3 separate regions of the Homo sapiens genome follow, and regions 2 and 3 are each linked to region 1. A link means that fine-mapping ties the variant in region 1 to the plasma level of a protein whose gene starts in the linked region. Region 1 holds a variant in brackets. A gene starts in each other region. All regions are shown on their reverse strands. Distances are from middle to middle. Region 1 overlaps COPZ1 (coat protein complex I subunit zeta 1). Region 2 holds the start of CEP43 (centrosomal protein 43). Region 3 holds the start of METAP2 (methionyl aminopeptidase 2).

Evidence for each region. PIP is the posterior inclusion probability: the model's chance that the variant is causal. Protein levels are from antibody-based Olink assays in UK Biobank. Linkage for the fine-mapping came from a reference panel and not from the study's own genotypes, which makes the PIPs less certain.
Region 2: it holds the start of CEP43, and the variant in region 1 is fine-mapped to the plasma level of the CEP43 protein (UK Biobank, PIP 0.95).
Region 3: METAP2 starts here. The variant in region 1 is fine-mapped to the plasma level of the METAP2 protein (UK Biobank, PIP 0.98).

The regions. Positions count from the first base shown.
Region 1 is chr12:54,329,502-54,335,499 of GRCh38, reverse strand. All of the region lies in intron 1 of COPZ1 (coat protein complex I subunit zeta 1), which reads right to left. Among named protein-coding and RNA genes, the nearest start is that of MIR148B, 4.7 kb to the left of the region's middle. RefSeq lists enhancers at 4,929-5,618, 5,619-5,998. The variant T/C (reference allele first, on the strand shown) is at 2,809.
Region 2 is chr6:166,991,569-166,999,848 of GRCh38, reverse strand. CEP43 (centrosomal protein 43) reads right to left here and starts at 452. Exons shown (of 13, transcript NM_007045.4): 1 at 335-452. The coding sequence starts at 436. It overlaps MIR3939 (microRNA 3939), which reads left to right and starts at 1,937; the gene lies at 1,937-2,042. RefSeq lists silencers at 1-80, 91-250, 341-860, 1,151-1,380 and an enhancer at 1,921-1,970.
Region 3 is chr12:95,469,608-95,477,892 of GRCh38, reverse strand. METAP2 (methionyl aminopeptidase 2) reads right to left here and starts at 3,741. Exons shown (of 11, transcript NM_006838.4): 1 at 3,563-3,741; 2 at 1,715-1,822. The coding sequence starts at 3,713. RefSeq lists an enhancer at 3,525-3,924.

The DNA.
Region 1 (5,998 bases):
GAGGCAGAGGTTGCGGTGAGCTGAGATCGCACCACTGCACTCCAGCCTGGGCGACAGAGCAAGACTTCAGATCAAAAAAAAAAAAAACATTCCCTAAGGCCATACCAAAAGGGCCTGATGTGGCATTACCCTGATGTGGCAATGGGTCTTGGTGAATTAAAAACTGTAACAAGATTCTCTTGTCTCAATCCTGTTTATAAAGTAAAACTAAGAAGGTAAAAACTAGAAGGAGAAATTCCTAGATACCACTCCCAGCTCCAAATGGCTAAGTAGGTATACTTCCTGACTCTGTGCCAACACTTTTTTTTTTTTTTTTTTGACAGAGTTTCACTTTGTTTCACTTTGTTGTCCAGGCTGGGGTGCAGTGGCACAATCTTGGCTCACTGCAACCTCCGCCTCCTGGGTTCCAGCAATTCTCGTGTCTCAGCCTCCTCAGTAGCTGGGATTACAGGTGACTGCCACCATGCCCAGCTGATTTTTTTTATTTTAGTAGAGATGGAGTTTCACCATCTTGCCCAGGCTGGTCCTGAACTCCTGAACTCAGGCAATCTGCCTGTCTCGGCCTCCCAACATGCTAATATTACAGGTGTGAGCCACTGCACCTGGCCTCTGTGCCAACTTTTATTTATTTTTTTATTTTTTTGAGACGGAGTCTCACCCTGTCGCCCAGGCTGAAGTGCAGTGGTCTGATCTCGGCTCGCTGCAAGCTCTGCCTCCCGGGTTCACGCCATTCTCCTGCCTCAGCCTCCCGAGTGGCTGGGACTACAGGCACCCACCACTACGACCAGCTAATTCTTTTGTATTTTTTTTAGTAGAGACGGGGTTTCACCGTGTTAGCCAGGATGGTCTAGATATCCTGACCTCATGATCCACCCGCCTCATCCTCCCAAAGTGCTGGGATTACAGGCATGAGCCACCGTGCCCAGCCTGTGCCAACTTTTTTAAAATTAAAAGCTCCTCTGGGGTTAAGGGCTCCAATTTGCCAGCCACAATCCGATAGACTTCAGATGAAAAGAAAAGAAGAATTAGCTAAAGTCTTTGACAGGGAAGAGCAGTTTTTACATATCAGATTTTTTTTTTTGAGACAGTGTTGCTCTGTTGCCCAGGCTGAAGTGCAGTGGCGTGATCTTGGCTCACTGCAGCCTCTGCCTCTCGGGTTCCAGCAATTCTCCTGCCTCAGCCTCTCAGGCAGCTGGGATTACAGGCGCTTCCCACCACGCCCGGCTTATTTTTGTGTTTTTTGTAGCCTGGCTTATTTTTGTGTTTTTTGTAGAGACGGGGTTTCGCCATGTTGGCCAAGCTGGTCTCGAACTCCTGACCTCAGGTGATCTGCCCACCTTGACCTCCCAAAGTGCTAGGATTACAGGCATGAGCCACCACGCCCAGCCTATATCAGATTTATTAATATTATTATTATTTCTTGTCACCCAGGCTGGAGTGCAGTGGTGCCATCACAGCTCACTGCAGCCTCAACCTCCCAGGCTCAAGCGATCCTCCCCGTTCAGCCTCCCAAGTAGCTGACTACAGGTACATGCCACCACACCCTGCTAATTATTTCTGTATACACACAAGATTAGATTCAAAAAGCACAGCTCAGGAAAGAGTGGGAGCCACTGGTACCACAGAACACTACCCAGCTGACATGAGACCAAATATTGGTTATAAAGAAAAAACTCAACACATGACTCGGGAAGAACTGACGGCAGGAAGAGACACCTACAATCTTCCTATCTGACACAGACCCAAAACATGTAAAGCACAGTCAACAAGAGTTTTGATATTACAGGAGAAAATGTCTCTAAACTCCTACAATCCATCTCTTAAATAGAGACAGGGTCTTGCTATGTTGCCCAGGCTGGACCTGAACTCCTGGGCTCAAGGAGTCCTGCCTCAGCCTTCCAAATAGCTAGGACTACAGGCATGCACCACCATGCCTGGCTACAATACTTGTACTATAATGGGGATCAGCCATTAACTCAAATTTTCCCTTTCTCTGAGATTCAGCTTCTTCATCAGAGAAATGAGAGGCTTGACCTAGATCAGTTAAGGTTAATGCCTTTTTTGAGTTACAGCAGACCCCTTTGATAAACCAATTACATCTATGGACCTTATTCCCAGCAAAATACATTCACAAATTTTTTTATGATTTCATGGCTAGGCATGCTGGTTCCTACCTGTAATACCAGCACTTTGGGAGGCCAATGTGGGGACAAATAGCTTGAGCTCAGGAGTTTGAGGCCAGCCTGGGCAACATGGCGAAACCCTGTCTCTACTAAAAATACAAAAAAATTAGCTGGGCATGGTGGTGCATGCCTGTAATCCCAGCTATTCAGGAGGCTGAGGCATGAGAATTGCTTAAACCCCGGAGATGGAGATTGCAGTGAGCCAAGATCATCGCACCACTGCACTCCAGCCTGGATGACAGAGCAAGACTCTGTCTCAAAAAATATATATATAAATAAAAATAATTTTTTTATGATTTCAAAGAGTTCACAGAGCCGAGTTTAGAATTAAATGAGATTCTCTCTGGAGATAATAAGATGGTGTGGAGGGGGCAGGAAAAAGAGGGGAAATGAGTGATACTTTTGTAAACCACCCCCTCTACTCTACCTGGCATCCAGTAATGCTGGATAAATTCAATAAATGTGTGTGTGGCCTTCATAAATTAATAAATATGATTGAGAAAACTAACAGCCAGCAGGGGGAATAAAGGTCAGCAACCACGCTCCCTCCAGCTTTCTTTTTTTTTTTCCCTTTTTTTTTTTAAGACTGAGTTTCATTCTTGTTGCCCAGGCTGGAGTGCAATGG[T/C]GCAATCTCAGCTCACTGCAACCTCCACCTCCCAGGTTCAAGCGATTCTCCTGCCTCAGCCTCTCAAATAGCTGGCATTACAGGCACCCACCACCACACCTGGCTAATTTTGTGTTTTTAGTAGACAGGGCTTTGCCATGTTGGTAAGGCTGGTCTCGAACTCCTGACCTCAGGTGATCCGCCTGCCTCAGCCTCCCAAAGTGCTGGGATTACACGCGTGAGCTACCATGCCCAGCCACCTCCAGCTTTCAATGGCTGAATTTGATGACTGTGAAATGGGCAGGACAAAGACAACCAAACCCTAAGCTTTTTAGGAATGCAAAGTCTCAGGACCTTTCTCAAAACTCAGAAAGCCTGTCTGTTGGAAAATTTTTTTTTTTTGAGACGGAGTCTCACTCTGTCGCCCAAGCTGGAGTGCAGTGGCTCACTGCAACCTCCGCCTCCCGGGTTCACGCCATTCTCCTGCCTCAGCCTCCTGAGTAGCTGGGATTACAGGCGCGTGACACCATGACCGGCTAATTTTTGTATTTTTGGTAGAGACGGGTTTCACCATGTTGGTCAGGCTGGTCTCAAACTCCTGACCTCGTGATCCGCCCGCCTCGGCCTCCCAAAGTGCTGGATTACAGGCGTGAGCCACCGCGCCCGGCCTTGCTGGAGGATTTTTTACCCAGGGGTCACATAGTCCCTAATTCTTCAACTATCATGGAAGTGAAAGAATCACAGAAATGAGGGACAAAGCAGTACTGCTGGGAAGAGAGATGAACTGAATAAGGAGAAATCAGACTATACTCCAGACCTGAGGCCTGAGAGCACCATTAGAACATTCTGCCTTCTCAGTTTGGTAATCCAGGAGCCCTCACTTAAATAACACTCAGCAAAGGAAAAAAATCAAAAGGGGCTAGATCCATTCCTGATGAGTCCTGGGTCACGATTTGTATCATGATTTATCCCTTTACTCCCCCCCACATCTCCCTGCTTTTGCTCCTGAAAACAAAAAGCTAGTCTCTGAGAGACTGAATTGACAGACTCTGTGTTATCTTTCAGTCTATTTATGCCCCCAAATCAACCCCGAGGCAGAATTGCTCTATTCTCCTCTGGTTTTAGTCTCCCTCTAAAACCACACAACAGAAAAGGAGTTGCAGAAAATTAGTTGACCGAGCTATCCAGGGCAATTGGCTATGGATGGGATATCTGCATTGAGAGTGAGAAAATAGGCCGGGCGCAGTGGCTCACACCTGTAATCCCAGCACTTTGGGAGGCCAAGGCATGTGGATCACAAGGTCAGGAGTTCGAGGCCAGCTTGGCCAACATGGCGAAACCCCGTCTCTACTAAAAATACAAAAATTAGCCAGGCATGGTGGTGGGGGCCTGTAATCCCAACTACTCGGGAGGCGGAGGAAGGAGAATCGCTTGAACCTGGAAGGCAAAGGTTGCGGTGAGCCAAGATCATGCCATTGCACTCTAGCCTGGGCAACAAGAGCAAGACTCTGTCTCAAAAAAAAAAAAAAAAAAAAAAAAGAGTGTGAAAATAAAAAGCCAAATAAAAAAGCAGGCTTCATCTGCAGCATATATAACTTAGATTACACAACAGGAAGGACTTCCTGAAGAGATGGGTGTGGTCAAACACCAGAAGAGGTGACACAGGCTAGGGAATGTAAGGCCAGGAGAGATCCCCCTAATAATCTGATGTAAGGAAACCTATTCTGCCCAAAAACAGGAGGGACAGAATGTGAGAGGGCCCTTGCCAGCACAAGCATCTTACAAGTGCATGGACTCATTCTCTGAATCCATCTTCATCAGCTGTCCCCTGGGCACTCTGCCTTTCCTCTTCCTAATTACTCCAGCACAAGTGGGTACATAGGTACTGATTCTTTATCCCTGCTCCATCTGATTTGCTCCTCTAGTTTCCCTTTCCACAACCTGTTTTCTTGTCAACATCCAGACTCTAATCAAGCCATGTCAATGGAGTAAAGTAAGAAACAGCAGCAAGTATCTAGATAAAAAAGACCCTAAACCTGCCACTAGGCTCCGTCAAATACCTGGATAATTGCACTCATCCTCTGCCTCCCAAGGCAGACCTGGCTTCTCAAGGGTCTGGTTTTCCTCACATGGAGGCCCCCTCCTCCTCTTCTGACCATGTGACAGCTCCCCTAGATCTTTGATATAATTTATACCTTGCCAGGGACCAACTCTTTCCCACCACTGTGAAGAAGAGGGAAAAAATATATATAAATACGTCGGAAATCTATAACAAGGTCTTCTTGGAGGGCAAGACATGGGGAGAGTTAGAAGCAGCGTCAATTGCTCTTTGGGGGTTTTAGTTCAAGCCGAGGTCTGCTTCCAGCAATCAACCATTAAAACAAGCTGGCCAGAGTAACAGCACAGTTTATTCTGATCATTTAATTTGAAGTGTCAATAAATTAAACTTCAATCAATTAAACTAGGTGTGCAATAACCCAGATGGACACCCCGACACCAACATAATCACAATAAAAATTTTTATTGCTGCCAGGGACCTCACCGGGGGCAGTGCTGGCACTGCTCGCGCCCTAGCTGAGAAATATATCTCCACAGCGCAGGAATGAGGAGATTGCTTCTCCTAACAAAATGGAGGGGGCCAGGCACCAGCAAGGACGCAGCTGGGAGAGGGGCACAGGGGACTGCCAGGAACGAGATGGGAGTGCTTTAGGGGCTTAATGTAATTGATACCTTTGCCCAGAGCAGGGGGAGGGGGGCATTTAGGCCAAGTACCTCTACTGTTAGGGCCAAAGGAATTTAACAAAAGCCCCATTAAGATGATTCAGGAAGCAAAGGCCAAGGAGCAACATCAACCTTTAAAGTCATTGACATATTCTGCATAGTTTCCTCCTCCATACATACTCATATCCTTGTGCACTTTGGATGGCCTGATTTTTTAATGAGGCTTAGAATTTAGGATTTGGTTATGGTTTTAAAATATTAAGGTAAGACAAAGTACAGAATTAGAAGTCTAGTCTGTAAAGCACTGGAGAAGCACTCTGAAAGTGAATCCAGAGAGGATTAGGAAAAATAAAACCTATGAACAAAGATTTAAAGATCTAAACCGATACAGAATTCAGTTTTGTTTGTTTTTTAAGACAGAGTTTCACTTTTTGCCCAGGCTGGAGTGCAATGGCCCTCGGCTCACTGCAACCTCCGCCTCCCAGGTTCA
Region 2 (8,280 bases), not on the chromosome of region 1:
CGAGCCTGAGGAAGAGACGCTGGGGCCGCACTCCAGGGCCCAGCTGCGGGCCGCCCGTGTGGCCCCCAAGCCCCGCGGTCCCGCCCCCACGGAATGAGGCAGGGGATGGGCCAGGCACCCCCAGTCCGCGGTGCCCTCCGGGACCACACGAACGAACGAGCCGACCCCCTCTGTGGGGCGGGCAGGACGGAGGCCATGCCGGGGCGCGCCCCCAGTGCCCGCCGGCCCCGGTCCCTCGCCAGGGAGGCGGCCTCCTCGCCGCGACCGTTGTGACGCCCGCTGTCCACGCAAGCCCTGCGGATCCGCCAGGCCCGGCCCCAGCCTCCGGCCTCACCTTGATGCGGTTCAGGACCCCGCTGTTCTCCAGCGTCTGCACCAGCAGGTCCCGCAGCTCCGTGTCCTCCTCGGCCACCACTGCGGCCGCCGTCGCCGCCATCTTGCTTCTCCAAGACAACCGCCGAAGCCGCGCTAACGGCCAACGGCCGCAGCAGGGTACGCTCCGCGCGCGGGCTACGCGGCCGACGCAGCCAAAGCCCCGCCCCGACGCGCAGCGCGCTGGCCCTGCCCCCTGGCGTCGGGAGGCGGGGCATAGAGACCTCGGGGTTGACGCTGGACACCGAGCCTTGGGGAGCGCCGGACCACTGAGCGCCGAAACTTAGGGTCGGCGCTGGGGGCGGGGCTGCGGGGCGCGGGTGGGCACGCAAGGGGCGGGGCGTCGGCGGGGCCTCCAGCCGGCAACCCGTTGGCTGCCGTCGCCTGAGGCGCGAGCTTTGAAGCCGGCGAGCGGTGAGGAGGAGGCGCCCTCGCGTGTGGAGAGCGGACTCCGCCTGGACTCCACCGCCCACGGCCGCATCCCATCGCCGCACAAGATCGCCGGAGTCATATTATCGACGTAGTTAAAGCCCACTAGCCTAAAGCCGGGCGGACTGCGGTAAGGAGGCCCCGAGACCGAACCTGCAGCCCCTGCAGCCCCGGGGGGGCGCCGGGGAAGGGACTCCCGAGAGGTCGCGAGGGGCGGAAGGCCCTGCAGGTTGTCACCCGGAAATAACGTTCTGAGGCCCCCCAGCCAGGCGAACGCACCCTGCTCGGCCACGGCCTCCGAGGCTAACCGGAAAGGTGCCAGGCCGAGGTGCAGGGGCGGGATGGCCCCAGGAAGAGCCGAGGGCCGAGGAGGGCGTTGGGTGGGCTCCGCGCTGCCCGAACTGGGGCCGCAGTCTCCACTCCCTCCTGCCCCGCGGCCCTCCGCCGACAGCCAGGCGCCGGCGGGGAGTCCTGGACCCCTCCCGGGCCCTGGAAGCCCCGTCCCGCCGGAGCTGACGCGCCCTCTTGGTATCCATCCGGCCGCCTGGGCTGCCCCTCGCCCCTCGCCTTGGCAAAACCAGCCCCCGGACCGAGCCCTGCCTTGGAGAGTGTGGGTGCGCAAGGCCAGCCGAGCTGTCGGTTCCGGGGTTTCGGGGTGCGCCACTGTATGGCGGCGTAAGCCGAGAAGTGTCCGAGGCCGGGCTCCAGCAGTTGAGAGGCTGATTTGGCCACGGTGAAGGACGCGCCCGGAGGAAGGAAACGGGAATCCGAAACGGGCGGTGGCCGCGCCTTTCCCGAGGCCGGCGTCGAGGGCTTCAGCGCCTCAGGGTGGGCGGGAGGGGAAGGTCGTGCGACCCGCGTGGCCGGCGGAAAGGAGCAGCGGGAGCCGCGGCCGTAGGGAAGCCACGGGAAGACGGGCGGCTGCGCTGCGATGCGCGGCCCTCTCCCTGAAGCCCTCGGCTCAGGCGCCACAGGAAAGGCTCCTTCGGGCAGGCCTCAGCTTTCAGCTTAAGTTTTTTTCCTTTGGCCGAGTCAACTGCGGTGCCGAGTTGTATTTTCCTTTCAGAGGTGTGTCCGAGAACCATTCTTAGGAGACGCCTGCCGGCCGCTTTGGGATAGGGCCTGTCTGCCCATGCTGGCTTCCAAAGGCCTCTGTGTGTTCCTGTATGTGGGCGTGCACGTACCTGTCACATGTGTACGCGCAGACCACAGGATGTCCACACTGGCTTCCAAACACATCTCTGTGTTTCTGTCTGTGAGTGTGTACGCAGGTGTCAAATGTGTACGCACAGATCACAGGGTGTCCACACTGGCTTCCAAACACGTCTCTGGGTTCCTTTATGTGCGTGTGTATGCACTTGTCATGTGTACACACAGATCACAGGGCATCCACACTGGCTTCCAAACATGTCTCTGTGTTTCTGTCTGTGGGTATGTACACACATATCACATGTGGAAGAGGTAGGAAGAGGCTGGAACAGGTAAGGGTCATGAAGGTGCAGTGCACTATTGTACTGTTTGCGCTTTATATGTGTTTGGTTAGTTTTGCAAGAACATGCTGGTGAAGGAGAGAGAACCCCAAACAATTGATTAGCAGTGCTACTGAAACTCAGATATACACAGGAATGGCAAAGAAACATCTATGAAAAAAAGCAGATTCTGGAACTCCATCTCCCTGAGATTGTCACTCATGGGGTCTGCAGGAAGTTTCAGGAATCTGCATTTTCTTCTAATAAACGTGGTCCACAGGTTATAAGTTGAGATACAAATAGAATATATAAAGTAAAAAAGGAAAATTTGAAGTTTCCTGCCTAGCCCAACTCTTCTCATTGGTAGTGTCTGTTAAATTGGAAACATATCTCTTTCCAGACATATTAATACCTTTTATACAGTTGACTCTTGAACAACATTAGTTTGAACTGCGTGAGTACACTTATATGTGGATTTTTTTCAGTAAATGGAATATTTTTGGCGATGGCAACAATTTTGTGAAAAACCTCACAGATGAGTCGCTTAGCCAAGAAATATGGAAAAAAAAAGAAAAGAAAAAGCTAGATATGTCATGAATGCATAAAATATATGTAGATACTAGGCCATTTTATTATTTACTATCATAAAATATATACAAGCCTGTTATAAAAAGTTAAAATTTATCAAAACTTACACGTACAAACAGACAGTTACATGGCACCCATTAGGTTCAAGAGAGGTGTAAACAGTTGTAAAGATGCAATATTAAATAATAACTGCATCAAATTCACTGTAGTACATAGAGTACTACTGTAATGATTTTGTAGCCACCTCCTGTTGCTATTGCAGTGAGCGTCAGTGTTGCTGGTATTGGCTAAAAATTCCAAGTAACATAATCATCTCTGAGTGAGCAGTTGATCTCTCCAGTACATTGCATATCACAGTAAAAGGTAAGCTCTTGAGGTTCTCACATATTTCTCGTTGTGTTCACTGCAGTACTGTAAACCTTGCGTAACACCATGGGACCATTACGAAGTGCCGCTAGTGGTGCTGGAAATGCTCCCAAGAATCAGAGAAAAGTTAATGACATTACAGAAAAAGCGGAATTGCTTGCTGTGTATTGTAGATTGAGGTCTGCAGCTAAGGTCGCCTGCCATTTTAAGATAAATGAATCCAGTATAAGGACTGTGGTATAAAAACAAAAGGAAGTTTATGAAGCCATCGCTGCAGCTACACCAACAAGCATGAAAACCTTGCACTTTTTGGGAAATACCTTTTTATCTCATATTGCAAATGCAGCTTTTTGTGGGTGCAGGATTGCTATGAGAAAGGCATACCTATATAATCTAATATTCAAGAAAAAGTGAAGTCATTATCTGACAAAGCAAAAGGAAGATGAAGGAAGGTATGATAATTTTAAAAAGTGGGTTGGCTTTCAAAAAATGTCAAGATAACAGGAGAAGCAGCTTCTGCTGACCCAGATGCAGCCGACGAGTTCCCAGATACCATTAAGGAAATTATTGAGGACAAAAGGCCAGGCTTTGTGGCTCATGCCTGTAATCCCAGCACTTTGGAAGGCTGAGGTGGGTGGATTGCTTGAAGCCAGGAGTTCGAGACCAGCCTGGCCAACATGGCAAAACCCTGTCTCTTCTAAAAATACAAAATTTAGCCAGGTGTGGTGGTGCACATCTATAATCCCAGCTACTGAGGAGGCTAAGGCATGAGAATCGCTTGAACCCAGGAGGCAGAGGTTACAGTGAGATTGCACCACTGCACTCCAGCCTGGGAGACAGAATGAGACTCTCTCAAAAAAAAATAAATAAAAAATAAAAATAAAAAAAAATAGAGAAAATCACTGAGGAGAAAAGATATCTGCCTGAACAGGTTTTTAAGGCAAACGAAAATGCCCTATTCTGGGGGAAAATAGTGCCACAGAGGATATTTATTAGGAAGAGAAGTGAACATCAGGATCCAAGGCGGGAAGGGATGGGCTAACTGTACTGTTTTGTGCAAATGCAGCCAGATGTATGATCAGGACTGCCCTTATCTATAAAATTGAGCCTTGAAGGGAAAAGAAACACTGCCTGCCACTCTTTTGGTTGTACAGCAAGATGGCTGAGCAGCAACTCTTTTTCTGGATCAGTTATATAAATGCTTTGTTTTTAAAGTCGGGAAGTACCTTGCCAGTAAGGGATTGCCTTTAATGTTCTTTTGATATTGGACAATGCCCCTGGCCACCCAGAACCCCATGAGTTCAATACAAACACATTGAAATGGTCTACATGCGCCTAAACACAACACCTCTAATTCAACCTCTAGATAAGGGAGTCATAAGGACTTTAAGGATCATTACACACAGTACTCTGTGGAAGAGAACCCCAATTGAGAGAATATCATGAACGTCTGAAAGGATTACACCATTGAAGATGCCATTGTTGTTTCAGAAAAAACCATGAAAAGCCATCAAGCCCAAACAAATTCCTGCTGGAGGAACTCCAGATGTTGTGCATCACTTCACAGGATTTATGACAGAGCCAATCAAGGAAATCATGAAAGAGATTGCAGATATGGCAAAAAAGGTTTCAAGATACAAATCTTGGAGAAATTCAAGAGCTAAGAGACACCACACCAGAGGAATTAACAGAAGACCACTTGATGGAGATGACTCCTTCTGAACCCAGTGCCAGACGATGAGGAAGAAGACGAAGCAGTGCCAGAAAACAAATTGACATTAGACAATCTGGCAGAAGGGTTCCACTTATTCAATATGGCTTTTGACTTCTCTTATAACATGGACTTTTCTATGAAACAGGCACTGAATCTAAAGCAAATGGTGGAAGAAGAATTGGTGCTAAATGGAAACATGTTTAGAGAAATGGAAAAGCAAAAAAGTCAGACAAATTATGATGTATCTCCATCAGATTACACTTATTGTGCCTCCCTCTCCTGCCTCCTCTTCCACCTCTTCTACTTCTGCCACCCCTGAGACAGCAAAGCCAACCCCCGCTTCTCAGCCTATTCAAGGTGAAAATTATGAGGACGGAGACATTTATGATGATTCACTTACACTTAATGGAGAGTAAATATATTTTCTCCTCATGATTTCCTTAAAACGTTTTCTTTAGCTTACTTTATTATAAGAATACAGTATATAACATATGTAACATACAAAATTGTCGAGTGCGGTGGCTCACATCTGTAATCCCAACACTTTGGGAGGCTGAGGCAGACGGATCACTTGAGACCAGGGGTTTGAGACCAGCCTGGCCAACATGGCGAAACCCCGTCTCTATTAAAAAGATAAAAATTAGCCAGACATGATGGTGCGTGCCTGTAATCGCACCTACTCGGGAGGCTGAGGCAGGAGAATCTCTTGAACCCAGGAGGCGGAGGTTGCAGTGAGCCGAGATTGCACCACTGCACTCCTTGCCTGGGTGACAGAGCAAGACTCCATCTCAAAAAAAAAAAAGTGTTAATTGTTTATGTTGTTGGTAAGACTTCCGATCAACAGTAGGCTGTTACTACAGTTTTGGGGGATGGAATTTTGACTGTGAGGGTCTGTGCCCCTAACCTCATGTTGCTTAAGGGTCAACTGTACATAGATATGTTACATACACACACATACTTCCTCCCTCTCTGTAATTTGGATCCTATGCCTATTATCTTTTAGTTTACTAACTTGACTTAAGAAGTCCTGATCATTTTTTGATGTTCATGCATACCGTATAGATCCTACCTCATTTGACTCCTACAAAATATTTGTTAAGGGTGTTCTAAAAGTTACTTTTTGTAGTTAAACTACACTTTATTTACATTTGTTTGTTATGGAAATAATGCATAATAATCGTTAAAAATCCAAACAAAAGGGGGGAACATATTAAAAGAAAAGTAAGGGTCTCCCTGCTACTCTACCTACCTACCCACCTACCTTATCTGTTACCATATCCTAGACCCAACTGCAATTAACAATTTCTGGTTTTAGTTCTTCTGGTTCTTTTCATTATAACCTTAAATACTGTACATATACATCTTGACTCACCAGCTGAAAATCCTTCAAAGGGACAAAAACTTATTCTTAACTCCTAATTTAAAAAATTGTATTACTTTTAGTTTTGCTAGAAGCTTTCATGACTTTAGGTTGTTTACCTAAATCATTATTTATAAATTTTACACACTGTATATTGGCTCCCTACTAGGAGAGGTGAGGAATTGGTACATTCTTACTTTCTCGTCTTTTCCCCTCCCCCTCCTAATTTTGTTAGTTTCATTCTCATTTTTAGTCTGTCAAGAATTTGCATTCTTTTTGTAAATAAAATTACAGACATCCCTTGGTATCCATGGGGGATTGGTTCCAGGACCTCTCGTATACACCAAAATCCACATACACTCAAATCCCACAGTTGGCCCTGTGGAACCTGTGGATATGACCATTCGCATCCCAAGAATACTGTATTTTCCACCTATTCTTGGTTTCAGTTGTGGAACCCACTGATATGGAGGGCCAACTGTATATATTGAAAACAATTTGCATATAAGTAGACCCACACTGGTTCAGACCCCTGTTGTTCAGGGTCAGCTCTATATCTTTCCAACTTTGTGCATTGATTGAAAAACCAACAACAGTATGATATTAGGGCTATAACAGATCTGTTAGGCCAAGCCCACATGCCCCTGAACAGAACATTCTGCACATTGGGCCAACTTCCAACTGCCGGCACCTGAAGTTATTTGCATTATCAGCTATCTTTGTCCACCAGAGCCTGCTCTGCCTGCATTTTGGGAAGACCTAAAGTGCCAAGGAATTAACACACCCTGCAAGTATGCTCAATTGAAGGCAATGAATAGAAAAAGACCCCTGACTCCTTCACCCCTGGATTTCAGGGAGGTAAATCCAAGATGTATGCTAAGGAGGTGACACTTAATGTCAGACACACACACCTGTTATGAGAGTTTCCTGATTGAATAAGAAAGAGGCATTCCAGGCAGAAGTACCCGAACATACAAGAGTGCAAGACCAAGAGGCTAAGGCAGATTGCTCTGTGCAAGAAGTGGCAGGTAGTGTGGCGTGGCTGGAGATGAAGAAATGACTGGATTGGGAAGGACTTTATCCACCAATCTAATGAATTTGACTTTCATCTTGAAGGTGTGAAATAGCGTGCTAAACAAGTTTAAAAGCAAAATGTCATTAGCCTATTTGTATTTAGAAAGAGCACTCCAGAAGCAAGGAGGGGATGGGTGAATTGGATGTACTGACACTGGAACAAGGAAATTATTCCAATAGTCCAGGAAAGAAGAAGGACATCAACTAAAATTGCACAAGTGAACATGGAAAAAAGAGGATGCGTCTGAGAAATATAAATATTGGCCGGGGCGGTGGCTCACACCTGTAATCCCAACACTTCGGGAGGGTGAGGTGGGCAGATTGCTTGAACTCAGGAGTTCAAAACCAGCCTGGGTAACATGGCAAAACCCCTCTCTACACAAAATACAAAAATTAGCCAAGCGTGATGGCATGGCCTGTAGTCCCAGTTACTCAGGAGGCTGAGGTGGGAGGATCACTTGAGCCTGGGAGGTTGAGGCTGCAGTGAGCCATGATCTCGCCACTGCACTCCCACCTGGGAGATAGAGTGGGACCCTGTCTAAAAAAAAAAACAAAGAAATATAAATATTGTATTAGGGTTTACCAAAGAAACAGAACCAATACGATATATGTATGTATACGGGTATATATATAAGGAGATTCATATAAGGAACTGACTCACAAGATCACTGAGGCTGGCAAGTCTACAGGATGAGCCAGCAAGCTGGAGACCCAGGAGAACTGATGGCATAGTTCCTGACCAGAGGCTAGCAGGCTTGAAATCCAGGAAGAGTCAGTGTTTCAATCTGAGTCTGAAGGCAAGAAACAAGCTGATGTCCCAGTCAAAAGATCAGAAGGCAGGAGAGATTCTTTCTTACTCAGGGAGGATCAGTTTTTTTGTTTTATTCAGGCTTCTAACTGATTGGATG
Region 3 (8,285 bases), 41 Mb before region 1:
AAGCCAATGTAGAACAGAGGTTTAAGGAAGAGGAAAAGCTAGTAATTCCCTTGAATCTTGGCACTTTTTTCCACCAAATGTTCACTATAAGCTTCTTGAAGGCAGAGAACATACCACTCTAAAGGAAAACAACTACTCTACATTACCCTAACACAATAATTACAGCCCCAACTAATGGTTAAAGACCTAACCCCAGGCTGGTGGTGCTTGAGGGGGAGCAGATGTTCTCAGTAGTAGGCAGCTACAAATAAAAAGAATGGGAAAGCCCCATTTTTCCTCCGCCAAAAGAGGCTGGAAAAAAGTTAAGTTTTCTTACCTGTCTCTTCCTTCACTGTTTTACTGATAACATCAATTAGCAGTTGCTGTCTTTAAAAAAATCTTATTGTACCCAAACACCCAGAAGGAGCTAGGGTCAAGGAATTTATAATAAAACTTAGTGCACTCCTATACGATTCTTTCAGAATGAAAAGAGTTAATTTTGGTATAGAGAGTAAAAGGAACAGGCCGGACACAGTAGCTCAAACCTGTAATCCCAGCACCTTGGGAGGCTGAGGTGGGCAGATTACTTGAGGTCAGGAGTTCAAGACCAACCTGGCAAAACCCCATTTCTACTAAAGATACAAAAAAATTAGTTGGGCATGGTGGCAGGCGCCTGTAATCCCAGCTACTCGGGAGGCTGAGGCAGGAGAATTGCTTGAGCTCGGGAGGTCGCAGTGATCCGAGATCACGCCACTGCACTCCAGCCTGTGCGACAGAGCGAGACTCGGTCTCAAAAAGAAAAAAAAAAATAGAGAGTAAAAGGAACAAACGTGCAGTCAGGCACTAGGTTTGAAATTCTGGCTCTATTCTACACATATTAGCTATGTCACTTTGGGTAAATCATGTAACTACCACTTCCCTATCTGTAAAATGAGATGGCTGGGTAAAGCCATGAAGGGCTGGGTAAAGTCAAAATAAATAGGAAAAGACAGTCCATTACCAAAAAACAAAATGGATATCTAAGCACAAGTAGGTTACTTTGCTTGGTTTTGTGAGGTTAAAATGTGAATGTATGTGAAAATAACCTAGGAAAGTATCTAGTACATAGTAGTTCTTCAGTAAGTATTAGTTAAATAAACAACCCCTCAATCTTATTAATACTCACTACTTTGCCTTCTACCAAGTATATTTTTAAACTCTGAGATCTGTCCTATCTGAACAGCTAATTAACACATTGAACTTTTTCAAGACTTGCTAATAAATACCTTTTCCTTTTTAATCTGTGACATTAATTGAGGTAACAAGTGAAATGTCAGAGAAAACACTATACGAGTAAATAAATTTTGATTAAGGAATATCACATTTTCTAGCTTTTCTTTCTTTCTTTCTTTCTTTCTTTTTTTTGAGACAGTCTTACTCTGCTGGCCAGGCTGGAGTGCAGTGGTGCAATCTCAGCTCACTGCAACCTCCATCTCTCGGGCTCAAGCAATTCTCCTGCCTCAGCTTCCCAAGTTGTTGGGATTACAGGTGTGTGCTACCACACCCGGCTAAATTTTTTTTTGTCTTTTTAGAAGAGATGGGGTTTCAACATGTTGGCCAGGCTGGTCTCGAACTACTGACCTTATGTAATCCACCCGCCTCGACCTCCCAAAGTGCTGGGATTACAGGTGTGTGCCACCACACCCGGCTACATTTTCTAGCTTTTCTAACCACAAAGATCAAATTAACCATTTACCTTCATCATCTTCATCTCTTTCTTTATCTTCCAATGCTGATCTTTCCAACTGTCTTGCTACTTCATCCACTGAGGCTCCTGATTCTTTATCAGGTTCCTGTTCCCCTGCTGATCAAAATAAAATAGCAGAAATCAAATCTAATACAGACACTTTCCCACTAGAATATGCTCTAATGATCTTGGAAAACTTACAAATCCTTTCCTCAGGAAACAAAAACAGAAACATTATTGTGAACATAACAGAATTCGTTTAATGACAGAAAAATCTTCCATACCTACACAGTATTGTCCATTCATTAATTTACTCAACAAAATATCCATTACACACACTAGCAGCTAAAAGATAAACAGCGTGAACTGGTCTCTATCCTCAAGTAGTTTAACTTGTAATAGTGGTCAGCAATTAGACTTAACAAATACTTAAACACCAGATAGGTAATAAATGCTGAAGGCCTTAGGAAAAAGATTCATGTGCAACACCCCGGGGCAGCCTGGTTTCATGAATAAGGATATCACGATGGGCTGGGTAAAGTCAAAATAAATAGGCAAAGACAGTCCATTACTAAAAAACTAAAACGCTCAAATATCTAAGCACAAGACCAGGCCCCTGCTCTGGAAGTGATTATAACCTACCTATAAGAGCAATATGTTACATGCATTAATAGTATCAGGTAGCACGAAATGAAGTGACATTCTGGCTACTGGAGAGAATTCATATTAAGAAATACAACTGTTAAAAATACATTAGGATCAGTCAGCTTAACACCTTACAAGACAAACAGCAGTGTTTGAATTTCACTCGAAATCCAGGAACAGCCACCAGAGTAACAAATTTTGCTCTGGAAGAGTTCCAGCAACGCTACAACTCTCCTTCCATTCCTATCTAATCAAAATTTCAGAAAGATGAAGATTAGCTCTCTTCGACCTCTCTCAATTCCATCTTAATCGCTTCTGACTTCTCCATTTTCTGTTTCTCTGGCGATTTTAATTAGAAACAAGTAAAAATAATTTTTATTAAGGTGAAGGAGCTTGTGCAGCAAAAACACAGACTTCTCAAAATATGTAAGTTCCTAGTTCATAATATCCAACTGTAAACTCTCAGCAGTTCTCCTTGCCTTACCAGTGGATTTAGAGGTTAAGACCTCAGAAGTTCCATTCTGAGCCACAGAATATCCTATCTGCACTGCCTGCAATTGGTATCATAATTCAGGTCTAAAGGCCCTAAAGCTTGGCGATGCTATGGGATTAGGCAGGTGAAAATTCGTTATCACCACCACAAATTCTGCAATTAATGACATGAGCGCGCGGGCAAACACACATGTACACACACCCCAAAAGTGCAGGCTGCAACAACCCCAACGTGAAACGGGATAGTGGGAGGAGGTGTGCTCTCCATTACATTTGCCCACCCCCAAAGAAAATAAGTCCTAGCTTGCTCCAGCAAACCAGCAAAGACGCGGCAATACGGATCAGAATCGGATTTTTGAGGCGGCGGCCAAATCGCGCGAAAGATGGTAGGGCTGTGCTCTGCGCACAATCTCAAGACCGTGCCACGATGTGCGTGGGAGCTGAGTTCTGGTAATACAGGGGCTCGGGCCCAGCGACCCCAGAGGTACCACACGCCAACCTCAGGCACTCTTTTCTCCCCCACCAGCCCTCTAGTCCCACAGGAGGAGATGACGCCTCTTCTCAGACTAGGAATCTATAGCCCGGCTTTGCCACCCTGTCAGGCCCAAGAATCAGTCTAGTCGGGGCTCTGGGGCCCCGGTCCCGGCCCCCTCAACGGGCCTGAGCCAAACAGTTCAGCCGTTCCCGGAGGGGACTGGGAAAACATAAAACTCTCTTTACCTGCAGAAGGCCCTTTGCTCTTCTTCTTCTTTCGTCTTTTTTTCTTGGCTGCTTCCTCAGCCGTAGAGGCAGCTCCTTCTTCCCTGTCGTCTGGATCCAGGTCGCCATTCAGGTGGCTCCCGGAGGCCGCTACCTCCTCCACACCCGCCATGTTGCCCGAGAGAGCGCGAGGGAATGAGACAGAGCGGCGAGGGCCCCGATCCTTCTCCACCCGCCTACACCAGCCACGCCGGAAGCTGCTCTCGATGGTAGGGACGCAGGGAATGCTGGGACGGCGGAGGACTCAGCTGAGGGTGTCGGGCTAGCTTCGGGCCGGGCGTGCAGGAGTCTCGGCTTGGAGCCCCGCCTGGCTGGAGTCGACTGGGGCCAGACCCGACTGCTTCGTCCGGTGCCTCGGGCATTCCCGAAGCAAATCGGCAAGCGCAGGGTGAAGTTTAAAGGGGAAGTTGAGCTCTAGAGTCAGCCGGAGATACCTGTGGAGACGGGCAACCCGCCGTAGCAAGCGGCGTCTCTGCTGGAACGGAAATATTTTATATTTGCGTTTTTATAAATCACACAGGCAGTGGGGAAACGGGCTAAGAAATGTGTTCACTTGTACACATTTCTATTGTCATGACTCCACATATCTCTTAAATCTAAGAGATTTAATCAAATCTGCGTTGACATTCACAATCACAGCTCTCCGCGAGGCTCTGTAGGCACTGGAGAGAATTTTGGAAGCTGGAGTTCCGTGTTAGTTTATTGTACTACTCAACCCCGGACGGTTCAAGATGGGAACCCGTCACACTCCGCTCACTTTCCAATTCAGGACAAGAATGACAGGTTTTAACACACGGGGACACGGTCTCTCTCATTAATGCAAAAGATCACACTCCGTTTTCTCTATTTCTGGTCACCTTTCTTTTGGATTTAGGACGTTTCACCAGAAACTAATTGAATTTTGCCCATTTCTTTACTTCTTATGTTTTGAGCCTCATGTTCAAACCGCAGTTTGAGATTTAGTTTGTGGCGTAAGTGGATTGTGATTGGCTGCCTGCACCAACTCCTTCTCAATTTCTCCTGAATATGGCTTTGTCCACCTGGAGAGTTTAGGTGTTTTCATTAGTTTTAAACTAGGCACCAAGCTTCATGGGCATCAAAATGTCGTTAAGAGCCTTATTGCCAGTGAGTTTACAGTAAACCTCACACAGGCTCTGACTGCAGCTGCATAAATGTACATTCTCTGTCTTAAAGCTTCAGGCAGCACCTATCCAATAGTAATAAAAACTGTTCCTCTTATTCTTGTACAGATCTTTATCTCTTTAAATCTATCCCTATTTAGATTTTAAATTGTTTTCCCTAGTTGATTGCTGGCAATATAAAAGTTGGTAAACCGGCCGGGCGCTGTGGCTCACGCCTGTAATCCCAGCACTTTGGGAGGGCGAGGTGGGCAGATCACAAGGTCAGGAGTTCGAGACCAGCCTGGCCAATATGGTGAAACCCCGTCTCCACTAAAAATACAAAAATTAGCCGGGCGTGGTGGCAGGCGCCTGTAGTCCCAGCTACTAGGGAGGCTGAGGCAGGACAATCGCTTGAACCCCGGGGGAGGTTGCAGTGAGCTGAGATTGCGCCACTGCACTCCAGCCTGGGCGACAGAGCGAGACTCCATCCCCCCCAAAAAAGTAAATAAAATAAAAAATAAAAAGTTGGTAAACCAAACATAATACCACAAAAATAAAAATAGAAGTAGCTTCCATGTGTCCAAAATCCTTTAAAATGCCCGGCAAGACCCAGCCATATCTACTTCTCCAATGTCTCCACTCTCTTACTATTATAGCTCCAGCTCTCAAAGCTCTTTCTGACCTTGGAGCATTTCAAACTCACTGTTACTTTTATCTGGGCTGCTCTTTGCTTGGCTGACATATTCACTTATTCACTCATCCATCCATTCGTTCAATGCCTACTATAAACCTAGATCTGGCAATATTTAGAGAGCAAAAACAGAGATGATCCTTGTCATCATAGAGCCAGTTAACAAAAATAGACATCAAGCAATGATGCTAATAAAAGCAAATTTACAACTGCTGCTATGAGAGCATATTACAAAGGGACTTGCCTAGGTAGGATGGCCTGGTAGAGTTTCCTGAGGAAGTAGCAATTAGGCTGAGATCTGAAGGATAAATAGGCAAAGGGGAGGGGAAAGGTTTAGAGAGAGTATTTTTTTTTTTTTGAGACGGAGTCTCGTTCTATCACCCAGGTTGGAGTGCAGTGGCCTGATCTTAGCTCACTGCAACCTCCGCCTCCCAGGTTCAAGCGATTCTCCTACCTCAGCCTCCCAAGTAGCTGGGATTACAGGCGCCCACCACCACACCCAGCTAATTTTTGTAGAGACGGGGTTTTACCATGTTGGCCAGGCTGGTCTCAAACTCCTGACCTCAGGTGATCCACCTGCCTCAACCTCCCAAAGTGTTGGGATTACAGGCATGAGCCATTGCGCCTGGCAGAGTATTCTTGGCAAAGGGAAGGTAAAGAAAAATTTAAGAGGTATTTAAGAGGAGACATGGATTCTAATACTAGAATGGTCATTTGGCTATAATTTTGTGACTCTGGACAGCCCATATATTTTTGAGCCTTGATTTTCTCATCTGTAAAACAGTAGGGAGTATAACACATTTAAAGAACTAAAAAACATCCAGAATGGCTGGAATGCAAAGAGGTGGAGAAGGGAGTGAGTGTGATGAGATGAGACTAGAAAGGTAAGAGCCTTGCAGGAAGGAAAGGGTAGGAGAGCTGACAGAGCCTTTTAGATCATACTAAGGGCTTTATACTTTGTCCTAAGAACAATATAAAACTCTTAAGTATTTTATTTTACTTTTTTTATTTATTTTTCAGACAGGGTCTCATTCTGTTGCTCAGGCTGGAATGCAGTGGCGTGATGTCAGCTCACTGCAACCTCTACCTCCTGGGTTCAAGCAATTATCCCACCTCAGTCTCCCAAGTAGCTGGGACTACAGGCACATGCCACCACACCCAGCTAATTTTTGTATATTTTGGTAGAGACAGGGTTTCACCATGTTGGTCAGGCTGGTCTCAAACTCCTGACTTCAGGTGATCCACCTACCTCCCTTAAGTATTTTATTTTTATTTTTTATTTTTTTCTGAGATGGAGTCTTGCTCTGTCGCCCAGGCTGGAGTGCAGTGGTATGATCTCGGCTCACTGCAACCTCCGCCTCCCGGATTCAAGCAATTCTTCCACCTCAGCCTCCCGAGTAGCTGGGACTACAGGTACGCGCCACCACACCCAGTTAATTTTTGTATTTTTAGTAGAGACGGGGTTTCACCATGTTGGCCAGGCTGGTCTCAAACTCCTGGCCTCAGGTGATCCGCCCTCCTCAGCCTCCCAAAGTGCTGGGATTATAGGCATGAGCCACTGTGTCCAGCCCCCTTAAGTATTTTAATGGTGAGGAGACAGTTAACCTGATGAGAGTTGCAATTAACATGATTAGATTTTTGAAAAGATCACCATGGCTGCAGTGTACAGAGTAGAGTTGAGGGTGGCCAGAATGAAAGCAGGGAGATCAGTTTAGAGGCTATTACAGTCAATAGGTTATAGTGGCTTGAAAGGGAATGATGATGGGTATGACCAAAAAAATGAATAGATTTAAGAGATATGTGGGAGATAAAATGGGCAAGACTTGGTGATGAATTGTATAAGGGATTTGAGAGAGAAGAAGATATCAAGGAATCCCCTTCGGTGTGTGCTGGTGAAACTGGATTGACTGGTAATGTAATGTAAATAACAGAGATAGAAAAACATTTCAGATTTGAAAGGGAAGATTATGAGTTAGATGTGAGACATGCTGAGTCTGAGGTGTCTTGGGGCATTAAAGTGGAGCTGTGAAGAAGGTGGATAACTATAAGGAACTGGAGATCAAAAGAATAGTTGGAGCAGATATAAAAATTTGAGTCATCAACTAATAGATGGGAATTGGAACTTTGACACAGATAAGATCATCCAGCAAGTGGATCTAGACATGAGAGTCTACCTGTACTGCACAGCATGGTGGCCACCTACCACGTTGCCACTGAGCACTTAAAATGCTGCTAGTTCAGGCCGGGCGCGGTGGCTCACGCCTGTAATCCCAGCACTTTGGGAGGCCGAGGCAGGCGGATCATGAGGTCAGGAGATCGAGACCATCCCGGCTAACAAGGTGAAACCCTGTCTCTACTAAAAATACAAAAAATTAGCCAGGCGTGGTGGTGTGCACCTGTAGTCCCAGCTACTCGGGAGGCTGAGGCAGGAGAATGGCGTGAACCCAGGAGATGGAGCTTGCAGTGAGCGGAAATGGTGCCACTGCACTCCAGCCTGGGCGACAGAGCAACACTCCATCTCAAAAAAAAAAAAAAAAATGCTGCTAGTCCAAATTGAGTTATGCCATAATTTAGAATACACACTGAATTACAAAAACTTAATACAAAAATACTAAAGTTTCTCAATAATGTTATATTTATTGTTGAAATGATAATTTTTATATAGAGTTAAATAAAAACATCATTAAGATTGATTGTTACCTGTTTCTTTTTACTTTTTAAAATGTGGCTACTAGAAAATTTAAAATTACGTGAGTGACTATTGGAAATGTAAATTGTCAACCTTAAAAAAAAGACACTAGAGGCTAGGCATGGTTTCTCACACCTGTAATCCCAGCACTCCAGGAAGATCACTTGAAGCCAGGAGTCAGAG